4 linked regions of the Homo sapiens genome follow. The protein of the gene in region 4 purifies or fractionates together with the protein of the main gene of each other region. This does not show direct contact. Each region holds a gene or a part of one and is shown on either strand. Other genes may lie near its edges.

Region 1 (3,500 bases), on a different chromosome or scaffold from region 4:
TCTCACTTGAGAGGCCACACGTACTTGGATGTGCCAGAAGGCCAGGACAGCCACCACCATCGCAGTTGTGGTACGGCCCTGGCCGCTGAGGCAGCTGAACACGAAGCCAGTGCCTGGGTCCTTGGAGAGGGCGGCCCGCAGGGCCTCCAGCAGCTGGTCAAAGTCCTGGACGAGAAAAGCAAGGTCTGGGTCAGCGGGCGTCTCTTGGATGCACAAACCCCAACAGGGTCCCCATCCACATGGCAGCCCCAGCCACTGTCCTCGGGCCAGAAATTGTCAGGCTCCCAAGCTTGCACACACAAACAAAACTCACCGGGGTGCATGAGACCATGTGCGTGTAAACAGCTGCACCTGTGCAGTCGTAATCACCCTCACACCAAGCACCTGGACAGGATGTGTGAGCCAACACAGCATGCACCTGGGGCTCAAGGTACCCACCCTCCATCAGGCAGGACATGCACCTGTATGTCACCCCTGTGTACTGCGCCCCTGGGCTGCACATAGACTGCTGGCCCTGCCACCCACCTGAGCTGGACCCAGCCCTGGTCCCACCATGGACGGGGGCCTGACCTCAGAAGAGCCCTGCAGCACAAGGCCACCAGGAGGCAGCAGACCGCAGGCAGTGAGAGCCGCGAAGAGATGCGCCAGGAGGGGCTCAGGCAGGGTAACAGACCCCATTGCCAGTTACACAGCACACAGCGACCCACCTACAACACACGCACCACGCACACGGTGGCTCACCTACAACACACGCCAGACACACGCACCACACAGGGATCCACGTCCGGTAAACACACACACTATACAGACACCCACAGTCACAGACCTACAGATGCCACACACACACATTCCTAACGACCCCTCCACAAACCCTACCACACACCACACCACTCCCCTAAAGATGGTTTTCCACACACAGCCCCCAATACAGACAAGGGAGACATCACAAACTCCATAAAAAGACATGCACACACACACACATTCCACACACCACCCACACACTCCATACACAGTCCCCCAACTGAGACACACACACCACGGACACCCTGGACATGTTCACCCTCAACACACACACACACCTTATAACAAATACACACACACACCTGTAACAGAATACACACACACCCCGATAACACACACACACCTATAACACACACCCATAACACAATACACACACATACACCCTACAACATAATAAACACATGTACACACATCTTATAACACATATGCACATACGTAACAGAATACACACTCCAATACACACACACCTATAACAATACACACACATATACCCTATAACACATAATAAACACACGTACACACACACAAAGCTTGGAAGGAATGTGAATAAACCACTTGGGCCAAATCGGAAAACCTCGTGAGACCATTCCCGGGCCCCGTAGAGAAGCTGGGGTCGTTTCATTCTCCCAGAGCCCAGACCAGAGGGGAGACAGGGAGGCCTCCTGTCCCTCCCCAGAGGCCTCAGCCTGAGCAGCACCCTCACCTCCTCTCGGGGGGCACAGAAGTCCGGCATGGGGATGCGGTGGTAGGTGAGGCCAGGACAGGCCCTGCGGTGCTGGCTGAAGACCTCCTGCATGGTAAGGCAGGTCTGGAACCTGTAGGTCAGGGGGCCCTCCTTGCCTGGGGGAGGCTCGCTTAGATGGGCCTTCAGCTGGGCCTCCAGGGTCTGGGCAAGGGCAGGAGGGAGGACACAGGCCACTGGGGCAGGCTCTAGGCTAGCCCTGAAAGGCCACAGCCTGCCATGGCCAGGCCTGGCCCTGGCTTCCAGTCCCATCCCTGACCCCCCCAAGCCTCAGGGGTCACAGCCACCCCCCAAAGCCAAGCAGGTTAGCAGAGCACTTTAGTGGGAATCCTGAGTTGGCCACTCCCTGACACTGCTCCTCCCGGGGCCTCAGATTCTCCATCTGTCTGCGGGAGTGTGAGGCCTTCTGAAGACCCTCCCAGGCCACTCCCCAGAAGCCTCGGAGGCAGGGGTGCCTAGAGGGCAGGGGGCCTCACCTCCAGCTGGTCAGGAGCCACAGGGGGCCCAGGCCACCGCAGGCTGTAGGTGTGCCCGTCACACTCCAACACGGCCTCCTCCCGAAGGCTCACCCAGACAACCTTCCGCAGCCTCCTCTTGGCGTCCGTCAGGTAGGCCAGGATGCTCCCCAGGGCCTGGGCACAGGAGGGCCGGCAGTGAGTGCTCAGCCCTCCCTCCCCAAACCCACTGGGGGACCCAGGCCCTGAGGGCCGGTCACCTTGGCGCTGGGCTGGGCCGTGCCGTAGATGGGCATGCGGGGCACCCGCCGGAAGTTGGCCACATCCATCTCTCTGACAGTGCTGAGCGCGTCCGGGGAGACCAGATCGTCCTCCCGCTGTGGGGAGAGCACCAAGCCTGGGACCCACAGCAGCCGACTGTAGCCGCAGAAAGGGTCAGGACCTGGCCCAAGGCAGACGGGGGGTGGGGTGGAACCCGAGCTTCACAGTTTACAAAGCACTCCTGCACACTTGGAGCTTCCCCCGGCCCTGGCAAGAAGAAGTGCAATGGTGCCCACTCTCTGGACCAGGAAGCTGAGGCTCAAAGAGAAGAAGCTGGAGGCAAAGATCATAGAACCCTGCCCAGAGCTCTTGGGTTTGAGACTGAGGAGAAGGTACCAGAACAGCTGCCAAAGCTGCAAATGCTTGCTGGGGCCTAAGCATGACCCCATTCTGTTCACAAGAGGATCCCAACACCCACAGCCTCTCTTCTTCACCTCCTGCAAGGGCAATGCTTACCCCAACCCTACAGGAATCCAGTGTTTAGGGGCCAGGGCCAGTACACAGCCATGCCCACTTCTCCGACTGCCAGTCATACTCACTAGGGAGCCCCTGGCGATGAGGTCCCTCGGAGCCACAGGGCCTGCTGAGCTCAGCGTCACGGGCAGGCGGTACAGCTCAGGGTGGGCACACAGCCAGCGGCTGAAACTGAGGGCAAAGGCCAGCGGGTACTGCAGCCCGAGGCAGAGAGACGAGGAATTCAGGGGCACAGGGCCATCCTGAACCCTCCCTGCCCACACCATGGCAGGGGAAGCCCCAAAAGATATCCAACATGGCCCAGAGCAGGGACAAGGGAGTGGCTGAGAGAAGACCTGGACGTCTGGTGTCCTGGTTAAGGACAGAGACAAGGGCCCGGTGGAAAGAGGTGGGGCCTCCCTATGCCCAGCTGCTCAGGGACTACTCCCGAATCTGGGTCTCTCCTGGCCTCCCTTCCCTCCCCGGTTCCTTGGGGGGTCTCCCTCCACAGCAAGCCAGTCACTGCGGTGGGGAGGCTGGGAGAGGCCCAGGAGGAGGGGACGTGGGTCTGCTCCTCCCAGGCCCCACCTGCTCATGAAGGTAGTAGTTAAACAGGATCAGGTAGAAGTATCGCTCCAGGCTCCACAGCGCCCTCTGCCAGACGCTGTGTCGGCTGCCGCTTCCCTGAGAGAGAGGACAGGGTGTTAAGGACAGACTCCTCAGGCAGT
Region 2 (3,500 bases), on a different chromosome or scaffold from region 4:
ATTAAGATGACACTTAATTTTTTTATTATGCACATTAAAATTTTTTTTTAAAATCTAAACAGACTGATTCCCAAACCAGAAGGATTGGCCAAAATAGTAGAATAAGTACTGAGAGTAAAGAACTTAGAATAGGGCAAACACAATATTATGCAGACCACAGGAAAGTCTTTGTGGGAAAATGGTTGTTATTTTTGGAAGCCAGAAATACTATATATTTAAAAAATCAATTCTCTAGGAAAGGTCTGCAATTTTTACTACTCGTTTTTCTTATTTATTTGCTGTTTTCTATAGGTGAGAAGTCAGTATATAATAATAAATAAAATGATGTATCTGTCCTGAAGTAGTTCACTGTCTACTAGGGACCAAAATACAGTGTGGTAAGTGCTAATTATTCCAGTGTTCAGAATTTAATGCTGGTCTTGGAATTGAAGGATGAACAAGAGTTCATGCAGAAAAGGAGAAAAATGGCAACCCATGGCAGAGGACAAGCATGAAAAAAGGCATGGGAGTGCCAGAGGACAGTAGGTCTGGGACCAGCCAGCCAGGTGGTGTCCCCTGGAGCCTGTGCCTGTGGTACAGTCTGGGCAGAAGTGAAAGATGAGGTTGATGGGCAGGGCTGGCTTGTGAAGGGCCTTGGGTGCAAGGCCAATAATCGTGCTTGTTTTTTTTTATGCATTCAAGGGCTGATAGAGATTTTAAGGTGGAGGAATTAAATGATTATGTTTGAGTTTTAGGGCAGTAACTCCCAAAGCAGTGTGACACATGGGATGAGGGAGGGTGCAGGCACAGAGGAATAATGGAAGTGAGGCTACAAGAGGGTCAGATAGCAGAGGGAAAGGAGAAGAGGTGATACAAACAAGATGCATTAGAAAATGTAATTAATAAGATTTGTTTAATGACTGAACGGGGAAGGAAAGGAAAGGAAACTCTGAGGATAATGCTGCAGTCAAACTTGAGCCAAGGGAAGCGATGGCTGATAGTCCAAAGAGGTCATGGGGGGCTGAAGGAGGAAGAGAAGTCATTGCGTGTGTCATGATGGCCACATTGGTCACCCTGGGGACTGTAGTTTCAGTTGAGCAGGGTGAATGATAACCAAGTCAAAGTGGAAGTGAGCCAGGTGCAAGGAAGTGGAGAGAGTGATGTGGGTCTTTGGTTTTTATGCTGTTTGGCGGTAAGGAATGGAGGGATGTTGGTGGCTTTAAGAGGAGGCAAATTTTCAGAATATACTGTATTAGAAAAAGAATACCAAGGAAATTTGGAAAGTACAGGAAAGTATTTTTTAAGAGAAAAATTCAGTTATTATTCTACCACCAGAGACAATCATTATGAACATTTTACACTTTTCTTCAAGTGTTTTTTGGTTGTTTCTGCCCAGTTGTGAGTATGGTTGATTTTGTGTATTGAAGTTTGTTTTTCCTTTTGTCTTTTTTTAAAAATTATTTTTTGGCATGGAGGAGGCATGGATATTGCTGTAGGCTAAAAGACAGGAACCAGGCGAGTAAGAAAAGCTGATGGTGGTTTGGGGAGGGGGTTTCTCTCTGGTGGTGGAGAGAATAACGATGCATGTAAATCCTATGACAGGCTAGAGAACTCAAAACCTAGCTAGGTTAACCTTCAACACTTGAAAGCATGGTTGACAATGTCTAGAAACTTAATCACCATAAGAAAAAGCCTACATGTGTATCAGAAAACAAGCCTATTTTTCCCTCTCTTTCTGTCTCTTTGAAATTAAATCACAGTGCAGTAACACACTGAACAAAACAAACAAAACAGTGAATTCAAGGTAATGACATTCGGCCGCTTTCACAAACCTGCCAACATCAACCATGTTCTTATTTTAGTGTGGCAGATTCTCAGCTATTTGGCACAAATAGGCTGCGTTGGGATATTTTTGGTAGGAAATGGCAGAAGCCCAGTTTAAACTGGCCTAAACAAACAAACACAAAGGAATTTATTGGCATGTGGAGTGGAAAAGCTCCAGGGACTTGGCTGTAGTCACAGCTGGATCCAGGTGATCAAACAACAGGAAGAAATTCTCTTCTCTGCTTTCGTCTTCATTCTTAGGCAGCTTTCCTCAAGTGGTGACAAACAGGACCAGTTTATATCTTATCAGCTTCCTAATTCCTGTGGAAAAAAGCAGCTTCTTTTTCCTTGTAGTTTGATCAAAAGTCCTAGGGCTGGGCTCTCTTGGCCCGTTGGGGTCATGTTCCTATCTCGGAATCAGTCAGTGGGCCAGGAGAATGTGGGGTGCTCATTGGCCAGGCTGCAGTCATGTGCTCACCACTGGAGCCAATCAGTATCATCAGCCCCACCTTACCATATGGCCAAAGAGCAGAAGAGGGGTGATTCCCCACGGAAAAATTGGGATGCCGTTACCAAAAAAAAGGGGAGAAATTGTAAGTGGGCAAACCGAAACAATTGGAATTTAATTGAAAGCATTTTTTTTTGTAGATCAATTTTCGTGTTCTTAAAGAAGTCTTGATTTAAAGCTTAAGCAATATTTATAAGAATATTATGACTACGTTTCAAATAAGAAACAGTATTAAATAAGTTGACTCAAATATAATGTTTGCTGTTGAAAATAAAAAACCATAGCTACTCAATGTAAACAATGTAATTCAAATACTTCTTTCACTTAAAACATGTAAAGTGAATCTTACTGAGATTCTTTCCTTGGTAAAGCTATTTTATTATTATGGAAGGTAGCAAATACAGGGAAAAATATTTTGGAATGAAATGACATAAAACCCATTGGCAATTTGTTTTTGTTTTTGTGTTTGGAAAAAAGAAATGATAAATCTTTTATGTTGAGTTTCTTGGGATCCTTTATAAATTTACCATGTCTAATGCACCCATGTCAGCTGAGCCCTCTCTGCTCCTCATAGATACAGACCTTAGGGTATCTGATGGGCTCTTTTCTCATCCATGTAGTAGAAGGTAACGCTGTCTTCTGAGGGTGAAGAGGATGGGGTTGAAGTAGCATTGAAAAAGCCTGCATTTTGGAAGCAGAGGGACTTGTGTTTAAAATCCCCTTCACCATTTGCTAGCTGTGTTACATTGTGTCCTTAGTATAATTATCTGTGAAATTGGGATAATATAATAACTGTGCAGGGTGATCATCTTCATCATCATCATTCTTACAGTAGTAGCTAATCTTTACTGAGGACTGTGCACCATACACTGATTTCCAGCATTTTCTGTACGTTATCTCCTTCCATACCCATGATAATCTGATGGACAGAATAATGATGTTTCATTTTACAAGTGAGGAGGTGGGGAGCACAGAGAGCTGAAGTAGCTGCTGGAGGGACAGATTACAAATACAGTATATTTAATATCCTAGGAAAATACTTGGCATTATGCTTGTTGCCCCCGGTGAATGACAGCTAGAATTATTAGTTAGTTTAAAATGTTGTTGAAAAAATTTGGCAGGGCCTCTGACATGAATACTTGATGGCAGAAGACCCAGCATATTGAGGGCCTTGCTGTGGTTAGAAATC
Region 3 (3,500 bases), on a different chromosome or scaffold from region 4:
TTCTAGCATGTGGTTCCCAAACTTGTCTACACCAGAATCATGCAAGGAGCTTCAAAAACTGCTGATGTCTGTTTTCCATCCCAGATTTGTGATTTAACTGATCTGGGGTGTAGCCTGGGTTCTGCAAGTTGTAAAAGATTCCCAGGTGATTCTAATATGCATATAGGTTTGGGAACTTGTCAGATAGAACTTATCAGATAGAAGAGTTTCACTCTTTTAAGTCCCTCCTTTGTTTTTAATCAGTAATTACTGTATAGTCATGTTGGTGAACATAATTTTTGGCTGCTTATAATTGCTAACAACCTACCCCTAGGCCTTCTAATTTACTGTTCCTAATCCTCTGTGGGCTGGAAATATCTGCTAACCAAACGTGTTAAAACTGCATATAAAATAAAAATAAATCTGTGCTGAATGAGAATCGGGCTCCTTCATCTGCACACACTTTGGCGTAGTTATTTTAGCTACTTAGAAGCCTTTGTCAGGTGCAGCTACGTTAGAGAACAGTTTGGCATTTACTTATAAAATTGAATAAATGTTCATTAAACAACACAGCCACCATACTCATAGATATCTAACCCAAGAAAAATGAAAATACACGTCCATACAAACACCTGAATGTGAATATTTATGACAGCTTCATTCACAAACACCGAAACTGGAAACAATCCAAATATCCATCAACAGGGAAAGAGATAAACAAACTGCAGTCCATCCCTACAATGGATACCACTCAGCAATGAAGTGGAACAATCTGGGGAAACATTAAGTGAAAGAAGCAGACATTACACCTATATACTACATGTTTCTACTTACGTGGCATTCTGGAAAAGGCAAAACTATTTGCCAGAATCAATCATTAATTGCCAAGGCCTAGGGTGGGGAGAGGGGATAACTACAAAGGGGAAAAAGGGAATTTTGGGGGGTGATGAAAATGTTCTATTTGTTGACTGTAGTGGTCATTACATAACTGGATACATTTGTCAAAATGCATCAAACCGTACACTTTAAAAGGACGGATTTTACTAAGTTATAATAAACCTGACATTAAAAATAAATGAACTCTTTGTCACATATTTCCACGTTTCAGATGGTCCTCCAAATTTTAAATTTTTTTGTACCGTATAATTTTGGAATCAAAAGGAATCTTAATAGTTTCCCAGTGTATGTTTGAACACCTTCAGTGACAGGCAACTCACTGCCTCCCAAGATGACTCATTTCACCTTGTGCAGCTCTGCTAGAATGTCGATTTATTTACACATATATCTGTATGTACATGCATATATACAGTCAACCCTGTCTCCACGGGTTCTGCATCCATGGATTCAACCAATCACAGAGAGAAAATATTTGAAAAAGCAAAAAATTACATCTACACTGAATATGTATAGACTGTTTTCTTGTCATTATTCCCTAAATAATACAGTACAGCCACTATTTATGTAACATTTACATTGTAATAGGTATTATAAGTAATCTACAGATTATTTAAAGTATACAAGAGGATGTGCATAGGTTATAGGCAAATACTATACCATTTTTGTATCAGAGACTTACGTATCATCAGATTTTGGTACCTGGGGGAAGTCCTGGAACCAATCCCCCAAGGATGCCAAGGGACAACTGTATAAATATAGGTATATACAGAGATAGATGGATAGACATAGATACACATACATTCCTGTAGTTTCTACCCATTGCTCTAGTTTTGTGCTTTATTTCTATTAGCTGAGTCAGTGACCAGGCCACATTGTTTTTTATTCAATATCCTCTCCAAGTACTTTGTACTATGGTTTTCAAACTTCTTACTCTTTTCCTCAAAACTGAAAATTTTAGTAACGTTTCCAATTTTCCAATGTTCGAAAATGCATTTTCATAAATGTAATAGGTTTTATCTACTTAATGAGATTAAAGTATTTGTTTTTCCCTACCATTCCTTTGAATCATTCTGCTGCTGACTAGAAATTTAGAAATCACTTATTATGAAACTCCGCTTTCTCTAAGGATTATGATCTCTTTACATAATTCAAGGCAAGGATGCACAAAGATAATGGCCAAGTAGAATGACACACCAAAGCATGAAGTCACACTAATATAGTCTTAAGGATGCTAAAGAGCTACCATAGCTCATTATGAATTTCTTTTTTCCCTTCAAAGACTTCGAGACACATGGACAACTATGTCAGCAAAGATACACAGATGACACACTGAAAAAAGACAACTAAAGGAAGAAAACAGCATTGCATATTTTTAACCGTTTAAATTCAGGGTGTGATAAAAAGAATGTCACATTTTCAGTGAACTGCTGTACGACTAAGTGAAAATAATGCTCCTTTCAGACACCTGTTGGCTCATTCTTTATGTATGATAATATATAACCAGAATTTTTTGCAAATTATTTCAGCAATGTTTGGAGATTAATGTTTTTACTAAAATTTGCCCCAAATTGGAACAGTTACCTCTAACTACTATACTTTGAAATATTATTTCATAAGATCTTTACGTTGAAGAAATTTAAAGGAAGGAAAACTTAGCCAAACATTTCAAATAAAATAATGTTTGCATATTGCAACAATAAGTTCATTTCTCACCATTAAAAATTTGTAATTATAGTATACATATTTGCAATAATACACCAACATTTCACATTCACTTGATTAACTGACATTTCACATTCACTTGTTTATTTATGTAGTCTTTAAAAAACACATTATGGTATTGTGTTCATACAACTGTTAACGAACGGAAAAAGCAAAATATAACTTACCAGACTAAATCCCAGAAGATGTCACTGTACAATTTCCAATGAGTCCCAAGGGAACACAGACATAATAATTTTTCTGTTCTACTCCAGGTACTAAACATGAAATACAAAAATAAACCTTTAATTTAACAAGTAACACAACTTATAACATGATATCAATTCTAACTGCAAAAGAGAATAAAACTAGCAGGAGGTAGTAACATCAAGTATAGGTTATATAGGACCCAATAATTAATTAATTCAATTGATGTTGAGTTTGTTCACCTAAATGCATCCTCAAACATTTTATCATGTGTATTTCTCTGTACTCTGTTACTTAAATTCTACCTAGAGACTAGGAGTACCTAACTGGGCTAAATAAAGAGACAAGAAAAAGTAAGGTAATAAGTATTGGTTTCACCATCCTAGTCCTATTCATGTGTTCAACCGATTCACAGTACTCTATGGAAAAAAAATAATGCTTAGGCTAGGATCAAAAGCACAGGCCATAGTTCCTAGCTCTGGCCTTGCCAAGAACTCTGCCTCTTGACCCTGCATAAATATCAATCTCTAAAATGTGGACCGTAATAACCCCCCTTCCTCCCTAATACAGTTGTTAGATGGATCAAATGAAATGAGGTAGGTGAATGCTTTACATGCTGCAAAGCTCTTTACAACGTGTGATGCTATTATTATGCAATTAATTTTTGGTATCGACTCATTGTAGCCATAAAGCAGCAACAATGTAAATCTTTCATA
Region 4 (4,090 bases):
GAGGCCCTGGCAACAAAAAGAGCTGAGAGGTGCAGGGAGGGACTCGTGCTGTCAGCCTGCACAGCATCACATCCTCCCCTGGTGGCCCACAGAGGCCTGGAAATCACCCTCCAGGCCCCTGGGCCACCTCCTATTCCTCTGGGGCAGGAACAGGAAGTGAATATAAAGTCATTTTCTCTTCCCCAGGTCTGCTTCTTCCCCAAGCCTGACGCTGTCCCCTCCAGGAAGCCCTCCTGGCAGCCATCTGGTACCCTGGGGCCCAGCATGGACTTTATACAGCTTGGGGAAGAGGCAGGGCCCTGAGTCTACTACAGCCCACATGTGGGGTGGGGAGAGAATGGAAGTGGGCAACCCCTATCTCACCCCATTCACCCTATTTTCACAGAAAGTAAGCACCAGTATAAAGACATAGAAAGAAGGTACAGAGCATAGGGAACGGAGGTGGCAGAGTGGGGAGCAGGATCCCAGTGCCCAACTCCCAGATCCCTGTAAGGCCTTCTCTTCTCCCATTCTCCAACTTTTGGAGCCTCTCTCATTTGGGAACAACTTCCTGCAGTCTAACCTCAGTCTCTTCTACTGCAAACTCAATCTATCAACCTCTCTGTCCTTAGAAGAAGTGAGGAACACGGATATCTATGGCTCAGAACACCACGGCCACTCCTTCTCTTCTAGAAAGGATGAGGCCTGGGACCCAGGGTCAGGTCAGAATAAGGGGCAGAGTGGCCAAGGGCTCAGAACACAACTGCTCTATTCCTCTCAGCCACAAATAGCTTCCTAAGCTGGATTCAGGGCCCAGTAATCTGGGAACAGCAAACCTCAGACCTGCATGATTAGGGTCAGAAGAGACCAGGCAAGGGGTGCCAGGGTGGAAATCCCTGGAACTCTGTTCTCAATTCCTGCACAGGAAGGGGTTCTCATGAAGCCCTTTCCTCTACTTACCCTTCACAGATGCCCCATCTCTAAGGGCTATGAATTTCCTCCAAATTAGGAGACAAATGGTGGTACATGAGCTGGAAGCTCCCTCTAGTTGCAAAATAAACCCCCAAAGTTACTCAGGACTCAGTCAGTCTGAGAAAGTTCTGCCCCAGAGCTAAGCTGAATCCTAAATGCTGCTATTGCAAATTGTAGCCCAACTGGCTTCAACATCAGCCTGGTCCAGCCTCCCTCTCTCCATTGATGCCTGCTTGGGCAAGGGAGCTCAGTACTCTGGGGGCCCAGCTAAGAATGGCTGCTGCCTAGCTCAGTAAGGAGAGAGGAATTGGCCCCCAGGGACCCAGGAGCACAGGCTCAAGGCTGTCTCCCCTCCACAGCTCTGTCTGGGAGTCCGGTGTTCTGCTGCTTTGGAAGCTCTAGGGCTCAGGTCCACTCCAATACATGCCCCCCATACCCACAGAGAGGCCCCCCCCAACAGTTATTCTCACAAAGGGGGCCAGGGCAGGTTGCTGGTGAATGTGGCCAAGGTGGAGAGCCACTGTCTCTCCATGCACCTTTCATCCTTTGAGGCTCATCCAAAGCCTCTGCTATGAGGTTTCCTAGCCCTCGTTCCCTGCCTATGATGACCCCCTCCCCTGCCCTGAAAGCCAAGTTGTTTGACTCCAGGCAGCAGCTATGAGCAGCCCTGTAGGGCCCAAAAATACTACTGATCAAAGAGCCCAATGTACACAGCATGCATAGATGCCAGGCACTGTACAGAATCAGAGGACTTATCTTCACAATAATCTTACGAGAAAGGTATCATTATCCCCATTTTACAGATGAAAAGACATGCTCAGAGAGGTGAGGTTACTTGCCCAAGGTCACACAGACAATTATATGGCAGAGTTGGAACTCCAACCCAGGCAGTCCAGCTCAGAAACTCTTAACCACAGTGGAGACCAAGCCTCCCTTGATGACAGAGCCCCCAGAAGAGGACAGGTGCTAGTCCAGGCTTGGAGGGACATTATGCCACTCCCCATGAGAGGAACCACAGCCAACACACTAAAGCTGCCTGCTCAGTTTCTTTCCCGGGGAAGAAAATGGCCCAAGTCTTCCTGGAGGATCAGGGTGAGGGTATTAATGGTTGGGGAGACATGAAGAGTCTGAATGCCTCCCAAGTAACTCAGCCTCCACCTAGCCTCCAGCGTGGGGGCTGAGGACAGGCTGCACTCAGCCCCTCTCTTCATTAGTGCAGGGACGGGCCTCAAAGCGCTCTGGAGACTCCACAGCTACAGGGCTATGGTTGCAGCTGCTGCCGCACGTACCTCCACGCTGGGAAAAGGGGACGGGCCCCTGGAAAAGGAAGGAATAAATCTCGAAAGGGAGAAGAAGGAGGCACAGAGAGAGATCAAGGGAAGGGGGTACACAGAGATCTCAGACCTGGCGGCAGAAGGGAGAGCAGGGGACACAGGAGAGGGGACTCGGTGGGGGAGGGGAGGCGGGAAAGGGGGCGGGGGCCAGGGCTTGGCGCGCCGGGAGGGCCCCTCGCACCCTCTCCCCTTCCCACCCGCGGGCGGCGCTCCCTCGCGGGTGCTCACCACCGGTGATCCGCTGCAGCCCCAGCACGTCCTCCGGCCCGATCGGCTGCTTCCTCTGCAGCGGCCCCGGCCTGGGCCCTGGGCCTGCGTCCGGCTCCGACTCGGACCCAGATTCGGATTCCGCAGGCGGCTGTGGTATGGGGGCCACGCTCTGGCCCGAGGGCCCCGGAGCGGACTCCGTCGCCGTCCCGGCCCCACCGCCGCCCTTCTTCACCTTCATGGCCTTGCGGGGCCGAGGCTCGCCTGCTGCTGCCGCCGCTGCCTGCGCCGGCTGGAGCCGGGGGAAGTGGGAGCATCCGCAGCCCCGCCCCCGGCCGGGGCCCCAGGTACTGCCCCGCCCCGGCCCCGCCCCTGGGGTGGGCCCTGCGCTGATCCCGCCCGCCGCCCGGCCCAACCCTCCCGAAATGCGACGGGCGCGGGGGATGGGAGTCGGGGTATCCTGCCCTGGGCTTCATTCTGTTTTTCTAACACTTTCTTGTACTGGTACTAGTGGGGTCCTGACTACCTCTCCGCTTACTCATTGTGTTCCAGCCTTTCTGCCCGTGAGTTCCAGGCTCAGGGTCTCTGCTTGGATGGTCTTCCCCAGATGGCCTCTTTTCTCCTAGTCACAGCTCAAATGTCATCTGCTCAAAGGGCCTCCCTCACACCCAGTCTGAAGTCCTTCCCCCTCAGTCACCATCTGACCAGCCTGTTTTTGTCTTTCTAATGCATTATGTGAAATTATTTTTATTTGTCCGCTGACTCTTCCCCCTGAAAGCTCAGCTCTGTGAAAGCACTGGTCCTGCCTACTTTGTTCTCTGTAGGACCCCTGTACCTAGCAGAAGGCTCCCTGCAGCTGGTGCTCAAGACTTTTTTTTTTTTTTTTTTTTTTTTTTTGACCTGATGAATTAGTATCTCAGGTAAAAAGCAGATGCTAACAGCCTTGGGCAATCCAGCTAGGAAGGGCACATGGCCACGTGGAAGCAAAGTGGACCTGTGGGCACAGGAGGACAAACACCAGGAAACTGTTACTTACGCGTGAATGCAGAAAGAGTAGAGCTCAGACTTTGTATCATTCCAATTCATATTCAGCCAGTGTTTATTAAGAGCCTACTACACGCCAGACACTTTACATGCTGATCACATTTACTCCTCACAACCATCTTGTAAGGGAGACATCATCAGTGCCATTTGAACAAATGAAAAACTGAGGCTCAGAGAGATTCAATACCTTATCCAAAGCTCTCCAGACAATAAGTGCAAAAACAAGGATTTGAATTCAGGACTGTTTGATTCCAAATCTGGAACTTTCTGGAACCTCTGACACACACACACACACACACACACACACACACACACAGCACCATGTCCTGAGCTGCTGCCTCCTGGACTCCCGCCAGACTGCACCTGACAGACAAAGCCAACTAGGAGGGAGGGGAGTGAGGGAGAAGGTCCCACAGGTGACCAATGCCTGGCCCCTTCATGACAGCAGGGGCTAGGGCTGTCCCACAGGGACTAGAGAGAGGTGTGGAAGGCAGGGACTTTCCCATAATGCTCCCTCCTCTCAGTGCACAAGTGTGCTATGTTGAGAAATGGGG

The links. Proteins that work in one complex are often made in the same cells at the same time.
Region 1: the proteins of UNC119 (region 4) and PALD1 purify together in Homo sapiens (affinity purification with mass spectrometry; 4 studies listed by BioGRID and IntAct, with this or other methods). This does not show direct contact.
Region 2: the proteins of UNC119 (region 4) and C12orf75 purify together in Homo sapiens (affinity purification with mass spectrometry; 4 studies listed by BioGRID and IntAct, with this or other methods). This does not show direct contact.
Region 3: the proteins of UNC119 (region 4) and MACIR purify together in Homo sapiens (affinity purification with mass spectrometry; 4 studies listed by BioGRID and IntAct, with this or other methods). This does not show direct contact.

The regions. Positions count from the first base shown.
Region 1 is NC_000010.11:70,537,767-70,541,266, reverse strand, and holds part of PALD1 (paladin), read right to left. Parts: intron 3,457-3,500; coding exon 3,361-3,456; intron 2,988-3,360; coding exon 2,859-2,987; intron 2,376-2,858; coding exon 2,259-2,375; intron 2,176-2,258; coding exon 2,020-2,175; intron 1,688-2,019; coding exon 1,505-1,687; intron 166-1,504; coding exon 25-165; intron 1-24.
Region 2 is NC_000012.12:105,351,191-105,354,690, forward strand, and holds part of C12orf75 (overexpressed in colon carcinoma 1 protein), read left to right. Parts: intron 1-3,500.
Region 3 is NC_000005.10:103,265,263-103,268,762, reverse strand, and holds part of MACIR (macrophage immunometabolism regulator), read right to left. Parts: intron 2,856-3,500; 5' UTR 2,766-2,855; intron 1-2,765. UniProt on the Homo sapiens protein: Regulates the macrophage function, by enhancing the resolution of inflammation and wound repair functions mediated by M2 macrophages. The regulation of macrophage function is, due at least in part, to its ability to inhibit glycolysis.
Region 4 is NC_000017.11:28,549,825-28,553,914, forward strand, and holds the start of UNC119 (protein unc-119 homolog A), read right to left. Parts: upstream 2,801-4,090; 5' UTR 2,734-2,800; coding exon 2,514-2,733; intron 2,269-2,513; exon of another isoform or gene 2,241-2,268; intron 1-2,240. UniProt on the Homo sapiens protein: Involved in synaptic functions in photoreceptor cells, the signal transduction in immune cells as a Src family kinase activator, endosome recycling, the uptake of bacteria and endocytosis, protein trafficking in sensory neurons and as lipid-binding chaperone with specificity for a diverse subset of myristoylated proteins.